Regions from separate parts of the Homo sapiens genome. Here all the other regions are reported to be linked to region 2. Evidence: microRNA targets listed by miRTarBase, many of them from high-throughput screens and not tested one by one. Region 2 holds a microRNA gene; each other region holds the end of a gene's coding sequence.
What was found. The annotated mature microRNA hsa-miR-548at-5p reads AAAAGUUAUUGCGGUUUUGGCU and lies in region 2 at 2,283-2,304, opposite strand. An mRNA with a match to its seed (bases 2 to 7 or 8) in the 3' UTR can be bound and repressed. Matches are read on the target gene's strand: a 7mer-m8 pairs with bases 2 to 8, a 7mer-A1 pairs with bases 2 to 7 and ends in A, and an 8mer does both.

Region 1 (4,070 bases), not on the chromosome of region 2:
TAGATGAATCTGGCTTCCTGGGAAATCATCTCCTAATACAGATACGCCAGCTCTCTGATTTCCAGTGTTGCACAGGACTGAATGAGAGACCCCAAGTGAGCCACCTACTACTGCAAAGTGAATTAACACCCTGGCTTTCATGTAAAGTGCTGTTTCTAGTTTCTCCTCCCCTGGCCACAGATTATTCCAATGGAGAGATGCAGGAAGATTAAAAGTTCATTAGATGTTCTTGTCTGGGAGTAATATACATGAAAATGCCTCAGACTGAGCTTGTCAACTCTGGCCCTTAATGCAGCATCTTCAGATGCCTCATTCATCTCTTTCCTGGATTCATCTTTATAATACAGATTCTGTTATATCTTTTAGGGGCAACTCTTCTCCTCCATTCATGAGACAGAAGGATGTATTTGCCTATGGAAATTAGGGTAATCAGACATATGATAGAACAAAGTTGTAAAATTAGAAAAATATCTTTAGGAGGAATTAAATTAGACTGAAAACTTCCCAAGGCATTTCCACTTCTCCAGAATGCAGCATAGCAGGAAAAGCAGGAGCTTTGGAGGCAAATAGCCACGTGATTGACTCCCTAAACTCTGCCAATTACTAAGTTAGGTAGCAAAAATACTTCAAGGAGAGCTTCAGAGGTTTAAATTATGAATTCATGTTAAATATTGAAAGGAAAATAACCTCGTAAGAGTGATAATTAAGTAAGGGTCATAATGCTGGCTGAAACTAAAAAAATCTAGGAAAAGAGAAAACAGGGTAAAAGGCTGTAACTATGTGAGAGGGCAGCTGGAAGCTGGCAATCTAGAAATAGAAGTTTGCCAGACAGCCACACTATAAAGAACAAGCTCTACGGACCTGACATGGAACATAATATTCAAATGAAGAATTTCTAACTATTTGTTCTTCTCTATATTGGAACCACAAAGGGTATAATCATTGCTAAATAGAAGCTATAAATAGATTAATGGGCCTTTGTATTTGTCATCAGCCTTGTTTATTGGGAAATGAATGAAAATATTAAAGAATATCCTTTTTTATTCCCAACTGGGTTATCAATTTATGAAATTCATTAAGCTGTACTGCTGCCTTCAGGGAATTTTCCATACAAAACACAATCTACTTCTGTTTCAAATGCCTATATGGGATTTCTTTCCATGCTAGTAACATTATCATGTCTTGCAAAGGACTAAGTCAAAGAATCAATATGCCTTTATTTTTTCTGTATCCTTACTTTTTTCATTCCCCTCTTCCTTTGTCCTCCTAATTTTCCTATTGCATCAGGCCCAGGGAGGTAGAACTTCCTGAGGAATATCCCATATAAGAAATAAACGGGCCAGGCATGGTGGCTCATGCCTATAATCCCAGCACTTTGGGAGGCCAAGGTGGGCGGATCATGAGGTGAGGAGTTCCAGACTAGCCTGGCCAACATGGTGAAACCCTGTCTCTACTAAAAATACAGAAAATTCGCCGGGCGTGGTGGCGCATGTCTGTAATCCCTGCTACTCCGGAGGCTGAGGCAGGAGAATTGCTTGAACCTGTGAGGCGGAGGTTGCAGCGAGCCGAGATAGTGCCACTGCACTCAAGCCTGGGCAACAGAGTGAGACTCTGTCTCAATAAAAATAAAAATAAAAATAAAAATGCTGGATTTAGTCTCTCCTCATACTGGGGGCAAATTTTAACACTAAAATAAGTGAGATGTATGAATTAAGCTATGTTCAAGATGTTTAAATTGGCATACCTTGTAACTAATTTGTGCTACCTCTCCCTCCTCCACCTAGGTGATTCTCTCTTCCACCTCTTCATACTGAACTAGAGACCAAACAACGTCTTTTTTTAAAAACCAACATTTTTACACCCTTCTCTTTCCTTTCAGTTTCATTGCCACCATTCTAGGGTAGATAAGTGATGACAACTGGTAATAAAAATAATGATGTCTTTTATCACAATAGTTCTCTTATTGGTTTCTTTGCTTCCCATCTCTCTCCATTCCATTGTGTTCTATATGCTGTAGTAGACCCATCCTCCTGGGCCATGAAAAATGATCCTACCCTATGCCACTAAAATCAAGAGACATCTAACATCTCTATAAGGTAAGATAAAAAGTCCTTAGTTTGCTATGAAAAGCCTTCAAATCTGATTGAAATCAACCTTCCCAGTCTTAGATCCTCAAACTGACCTACATAAATAATTTACTCCAAACAAAGTCACAACTTTTATGAAAACCTTTTACTCCATGTAAATGCACTCCTTAACATTCCTGGGCATGCATCTAACCTAATGAATTGAACATAGTCACCAGTCAGAAAGGAAAATTAAATGTGGAGATATTTCTAAATCTCACAGAATCTGGCCTAAGTACTGTTCTTGTGATTTTGCCCAAACAGTATCACCACAAGAAAATCCTGTCATATATTAATAAGCAAATATGAAAGTAAGAATAATAATTCACTTTATCAATTGATATTCAGTTTCTAAGAGCAAATATGTCTTTTCCATGAAGCCAGGGACTTTTGTCTGTCGTCTGGGAAATACTCTATCCCATAACACTGCCTGGCATCTAGTATGAAATATTAGTGGAGGGTGAATAAACCACAGTGGAACAACAGAAAAACATAGTTCACATACAGTCTTTGTTTTAATGTTTATTGGTAGAAACAGATCTTCAATGCATACTTTGTGTTTATATAAACTCTACATTCTCTTAAAGGTTTTCGTTTTGTTTTCACTGGAGATTTTTAGCCTCCAAGTGAACTTAACATATTGCCTATGCATCTGATTCTTTATAGACTTTTAGATTTTAAAACTAAATTTGAGAAACCATGCATACTGTATACCTTATTTAATAATCCAAAGAATTGTTTGCACTTTCAAAAAAGTTACAAAAAGGCTGAACACAAGTTAAATAACCTATATGATGTAAATTTTCCATTTCTGAATACTTTTTCAGTATTATATATTGCTTGCTGTCTAATAAGTTAGATTGTCAGAGACGCTTCAGTAAATTATCTCTACTTTAAAATTATATCTGAATCCCCTTTCTCTGAGATGAACTTGCCAATATTAAACATTGTGCCATATGCAGTATTAGCCCAAAAGCTTAAATAAGAACCAAACTTGTAGACTGAATATTTTAACCTTAAAATTATATACCTATATATACACCTATGGTATGCTGCATATTAAATTTAACATTTCAAGTAACATATATATAGCAAACATTCAGCCAAATACTCTTTCATGAAAAGATACTGTCCTTAAAATAAAAAGTTAATGAAAAGCTTATTTAGACACAAATGTCTAGATATAAGTACTAAGCCTATGAAACTTGAAGCTAAAGTCTGCTGTACTATTAAGAAAAAGAAGATTGATTCTTAACCTACTGAATTGTGCAGATACAAAAGTGCTTAGCATGACAAAATTACCAAAATAAAAACATTTTAGAGGTTATTTGGTTCTAGCAATATTAACTATTCTGTATTTCTGGATAATTTAACATTTGTATTTTAAATTTTATATAAATTTCTTTTTAACAAGTTTAAAAAAGCACACGAAAAATAGTTCAAACTATATATAATCTGTTATTTTTCATCCTGGTTAGCTAATCACAAATAACTCAGCAAAACAATGCTTGAACATTCAGTTCTACTAAAAAACAGTATTTGAGTAGATCCCATCACCTTACCCATTGTTTGCTATGTTAGACCCTAAAACAGGCTGCCGACAGATCGGACAAGTGCAATTCTCTGAGAGCCATCGGTCAATACAATGAATGTGAAATTCATGCATGCAAGGTAATTGCCTGAGCTTGTTTCCAGTTACATAGTCACTAATACAAACACTACAGATTTTACCTAGTTCACTATCAATACTGTTATGCTCATAGTGCCTGGTGGAAAGATTGTCAATCTGCTCTTTGGTTAAACCACGTATTCGATCATCATCATCACTTTCATTTAGTAAAAAAAAGTGAGCAAGGCGAAGAATGGGTAGTGTTCCAGTTTCAACTAAATTGTTTGGATTTCGCAACTGCCTGCCACCCCTACTGTCACTGTTTCGAGTATGAG
Region 2 (4,000 bases):
GTCTGCCTCGGCCTCCCAAAGTGCTGGGATTACAGGCGTGAGCCACCGTGCCTGGCTTATACATTATGATTGTAGATATATCTCTTGAGTCTCTAAACTACAGGTTCTCCTTCCATCTTTCCTTTTTCATTCATTACAAAATTTCTTTTGAAGAAATTGGGTTGTTTATCTTATATATTTTCCCACAGTCTATGTTTCGCTGATTGTAGCCCTGTGGTGCTGTCATTCCATCTATTTTTTTGAGATGGAGTCTTGCTATGTCCCCCAGGCTGGAGTGCAGTGGCACGATCTGGGCTCACTGCAACCTCCTCCTCCCGGGCGCAAGCAATTCTTCCACAGCCTCCTGTAGCTGGGACTACAGGCATATGCCACCGTGCCCAGCTAATTTCTGTATTTTTAGTAGAGATGGGGTTTCACCATGTTGACCAGGCTGGTCTCGAACTCCTGACCTCAAGTGATCCACCTGACTCTGTGTCCCAAAGTGCTGGGATTACAGGCATGAGCCACCTCGCCCAGCCTGTATTATTTTTTTTTTTCCTCAGCAGTCAGATGCCCTGTATTACATTCTTGCCGCCACTCCATTTTTACAGCACACAATAAAGAAGACTTGATCATACTTAATTTGCCTAAGCATTTGAAAAAAAAATTAATTCTCGGATAAGTTTTTGTAAGTTCGTAAATATAAGAATGCAAGTCTAAAATCCACAGGAAAAATATATTTCTGCTTTGCTAAAATGTCTGCTAAAAATAAAAAACCAAACTAAGTAAGCAGAAATAAATTAAGAAATGGGAAGGAGTCTTGAAAAATCAATCTTCCCAGAGTCGATATTATTAACCACCTCAGAAATAAGCAGCGCAGGGAAAAGTATGTGGCTCCTCAAGGCACTTGGGTCTCTTATGGCTTAGAAGTCCTCTGAATACATACATCAAGGTTTCCCAAAAATATGTCAACGAAAACCCACATAACTATTTTTGTTTGTTTCTTTCTTTCTTTCTTTTTTTTTTTTTTTTTTTTGAGACGGAGTCTTGCTCTGTCACACAGGCTGGAGTGCAGCTTGCTCACTGCAACCTCTGCCTCCCAGGTTCAAGCGATTCTCCTGCCTCAGTCTCCCGGGTAGCTGGGACTACAGGCATGCGCCACCACGCCCGGCTAATATTTTATTTTTAGTAGAGATAGGGTTTCACCATGCTGACCTCAGGTGATCCCACCTCCTCGGCCTCCCAAAGTGCTGGGATTACAGGCATGAGCGACCATGCCCAGTGAAAGCCCACATAACTATTTATCTTCATTTTAATTCTCTTGCTTCAGGGTTAGTGTTAAAAAATTTGAGGTTAGCATATAGGAAGGAAGTCCTCTTACTGGATCAATGCCAAAAGGGTATGGTCCACCAAACACTCCAGGGAGGGCTGGGTTCAGCTGTAGAACAGGGTTCCCCCGAAGCGTCTCTTCACTACCATGACAGGGAAAAAGTCACATTATTTTTGAACAAGAGAGGGAAACAACAAGGGTCCAGAAACTGACCCCAAAATAAATTACTGTAGCTATCTTGTCTCTTCAATAAAATGGGAGGGGAAAAATAAAGAGGAGAGACTAGCAGCTGAGACTGAGGGATCCAAAATGACAAAAAGAAAAATTAAACACACAAACACACAATCAAGTAGGGAACTGGGGAATCTGGTTTTAGTTTCCAAAAAAAAAAAAAATCATTTCTAATCTTAGTTCCTGGATACTTGCTGAACAAATCACAAAGCAACTCACAGTGTGGAGCATGAATGAGGAGACACTGTCACCACTTCCTAAAGAAGTGTCAGTTTACCACTTGTCTTAAAAATCAGGGCTGCACATGAAAGGAATAAGCTTTGAATTTTAGCTTCTTCTGCAACTTACGTCCAATTATAAGTAAACATCGGCCGTACACTCCAGGATGACCCAAAGATATTAAGAGACTTGGAAAAGCAATCATTGTAGATGAGGCCAGTGTACATGGAGAACACACCCATCAATAAAATAATGTATCGACCACTGAACACAGTGCTAAACATCTGGGAACCAGAAGAAAGAAGTAATGAGAATGTACTCACTGCAGCTCACATTGTGACAATGTTATTCAGAATATACCTGCCCCTTTCTCCAGCACTACTTTACCCCATCCTGATTCAGAGAGCTTGAAGTAAAAACCAAAATACAATGCTAATGAGACAGTCACTTTCACAGGATGTGGCCTCTATTTTTTTATTAGGTTGGCACAAAAGTTACTGCGGTTTTGGCCATTTCTTTTGGCAGCCAAAACCGCAATAACTTTTGCACCAAACCTAAATAATTTTTATTTTTTTAGAGATGGGGTCTCACTATGTTGCCTATGCTGGTCTCGAATTCCTGGGCTCAAGTGATTCTCCTGCCTCAGCCTCCAAGTAGCTGGGACTACAGGCACACACTACCACTTCCAGCTTGCACATGTCGTCTTTGGTGTTAAAATGAACATAACTTCTCTACTTCCTTTTGATAAATTCATGGATAAAAGACTTCCAGATCATAATTTTCATAATGAATGCTTGGGAAATTATAAAATTTCAGTTCAATGCAGATGTAACTTAAACATTACCTCATTCTCATTCTTCTGGGAAAGGATCCGGCTCTCCCTCAGTACCATCCACACAGCAAAAAGGGTCATTAAAATGCCATGACCGAAGTCTCCAAACATCACAGCAAATAGAAAAGGGAACGTGATAATAGTATACGGAGCTATGAAGAAACCAAAAAAAGAAAAATACAAAGTACATTAAACCATAGCAATTCCACAAATATTACATTCTTTTCCATACCCACCCCCCTTTTTTTTTTTGAGATGGAGTCTTGCTCTGTCAGCCAGCAATGTCTCAATCTTGGCTCACTGCAACCTCCATCTCCCAGGTTCAAGTGATTCTCCTGCCTCAGCCTCTTGAGTAGCTGGGATTACAGGTGCCCACCACCATGCCTAGCTAAGTTTTGTATTTTTAGTAGAGACAGGGTTTCACCATGTTGCCCAGGCTGGTCTCCGACTCTGACCTCAAGTGATCCACCTGCCTCGGCCTCCCAAAGTGCTGGCATTACAGGCGTGAGCCACCGTGCCCAGGCTTCCATAATCTTAAGATCAATATAAGGTGACTTACTCCCCAGCTGCCAGACAGATAGGACTCTCAGAGAAAATCTTTCATGGCAGAATCAACACATCTTCACAAAGTAGCTAATGAAATTTGAGCTACTGATAACTTTTTTTAAAAGAGAGATGGGGTCTTTCTCTGCCACCCAGGCTGGAGTGCAGTGGTTTCATCACAGCTCACTGCAGCCTGCAACCCCTGGACTCAAGTTATCCTCCCACCTCAGCCTCCCAAACAGTTGGAACTACAAGTATGTGCCACCATGCCCAGTTAATTTTGTTTTAAAATTACTGATAAATAATATTTTTTTAGATGGAATCTCACTATTTTGCCCAAGCTAGTCCTGAACTTGTGGCCTTGAGCAATCCTCCCACCTCAGCCTCCTGAATATCCGAGATTACAGGCATGAGGCACTGTGCCTGGCAGCTCTGATAACATTTCAAACAAAGAACAGTGGAAATGAAGGTGTAACCTTGACAACATTGGTTTGTTCTCTGACTCTCTTGTAACTCGTGGGACCCTGCTCCCAGGGCAGGCCAGCTGTCTTCTCTTTGTGCAGCAACCATGTCCCAGTGATATAAAGCTAAATATCAGATAACGTACAGATGGAGAGAGCCCAGAGCAAAGCAGTTCTTCCATAGGGCTCCAACTGAAAATGAATACTCACACTCTTGATTTAATAATTAACTCTCCAAATATAGGAGAAATCTGTGTTGTACCTAAAGTGGCCAATACTTGCTACATTTTTTCTGTCTAACCTTGGAACAGGGAAGCCAAAAAAAAAGCCATTTAAAAATATCAGACATCTTAGAAGAAACATTTTGCTTAAAACAGTTCCTGCAAATGATTTGCTAGAGAAGTC
Region 3 (4,070 bases), not on the chromosome of region 2:
AATTTAGGGATGTATACTTAAATAGTGAATCCATATAAAAACACGCGGAAAACCATTTACCATGAAAGCGAAGTTAAGATGGTCTCAAGTTGTGATCCCGTGGGTGGAGGTGGTTCTGCAGTGCTTGCAATTTTCTGTTTCTTGAGCTCCACTTTGGTTACCTGTTAGTTCACTTTGTAATAATACATTAAAATATTCATTTGCTTTATGCACTTTCATGTATGTGGGTTATATTCCACAATGAAAATTTTCCAATTTTAACAAATGAAGACAAAAAGAAGCAAGAATGATTTGTAGACTTTATATCTTACCTTGTTTCAAGTAACGGCTTGCCTTGTTAAACAAGGAACAGATTGTGGTTATTGCCACTTACTTTGCATGAAAAAGAAAAACTTTGTGGTGATTCTTAGGCCTGTAGGGGCTTTCCCCCGACAGTTGTGTCCCTATCAGATGAGCTCACTTAGGCTGTTATCAAAGCACTTGGTAAATCCCCAGGTACCATCTGATACCAGATTGATTCCCTTATATTTCCTTCTGTATGGGGGCAGAGCCTATGCTTGCTTTATGTACCACTGTGTAGTATGCACAGTGTCTAGAGCATAGCAGATCCTCAAATATCTTCTGATGACTGACATTTCTCTGTACCAGGAATTGGCCAACTTGCTTCCCTCCATTTGCAACTGCCCGTTGCCTGACCAGGGTCCCATGCAAAGAAATAAAGTTATATGTTTTCTTCCTTATTCTTGAAAGAAACATGCTATTTGAAGGTTGTGATTTGTCCTAGTTTGAATTCTCTGTGAATCAGACCGTGAGGAAAGGATTTGCAATTCATTTGGGAGGTGATCCCAGGAAACACTGGTAAAGGAGTAGGGAACTGAGACAGGGAATAGAAGTCAGCCCACAAACGTTGTAAACTAAAAATAAAATCCTAAAGCTTCCCACTGACTAAAGGACCTCCTCTTGGTCAAGGGGACCCCAGAGAAACCCTCAAAACTGAATTCCTGGCCATGATAGAATGGAAGGTCAGACATGCTTTGTTATACTCCCTCCGTTGGATGGCTTAGACGCAACTGACCAGCATGAATGTTAAAATAGAGATCACAGACTGATGGAACAGACACTTTGTGGCAATATTCTTTGTAGCAATGTAGTCTTCTCCATAGTGATATGACACATCTTTTGTTATATTTATTCCCAGGTACTATTTTAAAATGCTGTTACACATTTTTACAGCTTTATTTTCTAACTTCCTTTTGCTGGTATGTAGAAATCTAGGTATCTAGTCTTTTAAATATTGATTTTATTAGCCACTTTGCCAAACTCTTATTATGTATGCCAATTCTTTTGGATTTTCTGTGTACACATTCATATCACTTGTGAGCTATAAGATGCCAAATTATAAACAGGATCTAAGGACATGCCAGGCAGGATTAAGTCACACACTCCTACACTTAAAGAATAAACTATGTTCTAACTGCCACAAGATTTTTCTTTTTCTCGAGCAGCTAAACAAACACTGGCCTTGAGTGTCTGAAGCAACTGCAGCTTCACCAAGTGTTGACTGACTCCAGCCCATTTTCCACCAGCCATAACTACAGTTTTAACTGGACAAGAGGATTTTAGTAGCTTTCTCATGATAAGAGACCAACCACTGTGAACTGGCTCTGGCCTGTTTACAGAAATGGTGCATTGTGTGCCTTCGTGTTACTGCTTCACCTTTTCATGTATAGGGCCTAACTGTAATACATTTAAATGTTAAGCCTCCACCCCAAGGTGTAACATGCATGCATCAGGACTGCCTTCATGAATATTCATGAATCCACCTGTAGCCTGTTGAATATGTATACTTGGCCAACCCATTCAATTTAAATTTCTGTCTTACTCTTCCTTCCCTAGAAGTGCCTGCCTCCGGTCTTTGCTGGAGGTTACGCTTTCTAGCCTGCAGAATGACCACCTTGTAGGCTGTAACCCTTTGTAAGAAATAAAGTATCCTTTCCAAATGCATGAAGACCCTGTGATTTTTTAGTTAACCATAGTAAGCAAAACACTACTGTGTGTTACTAGAGTTTGATCCCTCAGCGGTATTCCACCTGACAGTTGAGGGAACTGAGATATTTGTACACCAACTACTACCAGTTATTGGTGGTTAAGGGCTGCACTGGGGCTGTGTTATTTTCCCTGCTGCTCTTCTAGAATGCCATGCACAGGTGAGTAAAGCTGGCTCTGGTGGCCAGAGACCCTAAAAAGGGCAGATGCTGACATGACAATAGGAAGTCAGGCCAGCAAGCACTAAAGAGCAAAATGGTATGTATGGGACACAGAAGACATCTGCTACAAGACACTTTTGCGGGTAATGAATGGGGAAGACATGCATGAGGGTGAGGTGAGAATCCCTGATAGTAAATGTAACATGGAGTTGATTAAAACAGAACTAGAATGATGTCTGGCAGCCTGTAACCTTCCTGCTCATCCAAGCTGCCAATCCTTGGATTTAGCTTAAAATCAGGCTGGGCTTTGTCTTAAAAACTTCTTTTAATATCTGTTTTACTGTTTCCCTATCTCTTCTGCATGCAGTTTGTAGGCATTGAAAAGGTTACTACAGGTGCTAATGATGAATTTGAATTTGGCTTTGCTGAAAGATTCCATGAAGATTCGTTTTCATCTCAGTAGGAATCTCAAACTGTTCCTCTGTCTTCCCAGAAGTACCCTCCAGCTCTAAAATTATGTGATGCTAGCACAGATACCAAGACTCTAGTAGCAATCCTGCCAAAATGAATATAGTGTCTTAGATTAGAAGTTGTTAGAGATGTCATCAAATCTGGACTCTAAACATTAAAAATCTATACTAATAACATTCAGAGTAGGTTCATGCCTATGATTCTAAAGACCTGCATTTGCTATTGGGCAGTCTTGTATTCTAGTGAACTTGACTCTTACACCCAGGTATAGATCTCAAAAGACAAACTTTAAAAGGTATTAGCAATACTTTATTGAATATATTAACTGACAACTGTGGTTAATAAAAACTAATATTTTTAATAACTTCATTTTTAAGTATTTATAAATATAAACTGCATTTCACTCAGTTTCTTTTCCACCAGTTGGAATTGTAATTAAAACATGTTAAAGTTCTTCACATTCATTCACACAATTGCACTCCAGAAATGGTCAAATGCAGTAGCTTATCTGCATTACATTTGCCAGGGTATATGCTGAATGTTTTGCTTTCCCCTTCTTAAGACACTGAGAAAAAAAAAAAGTTATATGAAATAGGCATTAATTTTCCTCTTTTTTATATAAAAAAGTCCAAAATTCTCTGCCAAAATTCCTTTATCTTTTTAGGTTAAAATAAGTGAATAAGTTTTGTTTGTTTTTATGATCCAGTCAGCAAGATTCCCACTGGTATGTTACATCATTTTCTTGAAGCTGATTATGTGGCACAGTCCATAGTCTGCCTTGACTTTGACAGTTCTCGTTTCAGTTGTTCAAAGCACACAAACATAATGACGTTCCAGGATCCAAGTCGCAAGAAGGAAGGTACCAACCTAGAAAAGTGCATGTCATCGTTCGATTAATTTGTTTGATTTTTTTTTTTTTTAATTTTTGAGATGAGGCTTCACCCTGCCGCCCAGGCTGGAATGCAGTAGTGTAATCATAGCTCACTGCAACCTCGAGCTCCTGGGCTTAAGTGATCCTCCCACCTGAGCCTCCTGGAGTAACTGGGACTAGAGACTGCACCACCACACTCAGCCTGAAATTCTTAAAGTGATTATAGCAGGTTATGCTTCTCATTTTGCCACTCCTCAAGTGAAGATGCTTAAAAGTACCTACTCTTCATCTTTCCCTCCTCTGCTGAAAATAAATTTTCCTCTAGATGTCCTATATTACTTCAAAACAACACAGCCCTGATGATCACATCTATACAAATCCACAAATATCCTTCACTCCCAAAACATGTCTTTTCTTCACTGACATGAACTTTTTCAAAAACTCTTTCCTTTTTTGAGGGAAGGGGGAATTTTTGCTTGTTTTGCTTTGCTTTCTGAATGGGAGGTAGGAAACTATTAGAA

Region 1: the mRNA of RNF6 is a reported target of hsa-miR-548at-5p. Seed matches in the 3' UTR shown: 7mer-m8 at 3,270-3,276 and 7mer-m8 at 2,879-2,885.
Region 3: the mRNA of UCP1 is a reported target of hsa-miR-548at-5p. Seed matches in the 3' UTR shown: 7mer-m8 at 3,257-3,263 and 7mer-A1 at 3,125-3,131.

What each region holds. Positions count from the first base shown.
Region 1 is chr13:26,210,140-26,214,209 of GRCh38, forward strand. It overlaps RNF6 (ring finger protein 6), which reads right to left. Exons shown (of 5, transcript NM_005977.4): 5 at 2,636-4,070. The coding sequence ends at 3,685. Among named protein-coding and RNA genes, the nearest start is that of RNF6, 10 kb to the right of the region's middle.
Region 2 is chr17:42,493,077-42,497,076 of GRCh38, reverse strand. MIR548AT (microRNA 548at) reads right to left here and starts at 2,304; the gene lies at 2,247-2,304. ATP6V0A1 (ATPase H+ transporting V0 subunit a1) reads right to left here. Exons shown (of 22, transcript NM_001130021.3): 12 at 2,604-2,743; 13 at 1,889-2,043; 14 at 1,361-1,451.
Region 3 is chr4:140,556,466-140,560,535 of GRCh38, forward strand. It overlaps UCP1 (uncoupling protein 1), which reads right to left. Exons shown (of 6, transcript NM_021833.5): 6 at 2,966-3,545. The coding sequence ends at 3,431. Among named protein-coding and RNA genes, the nearest start is that of UCP1, 10 kb to the right of the region's middle.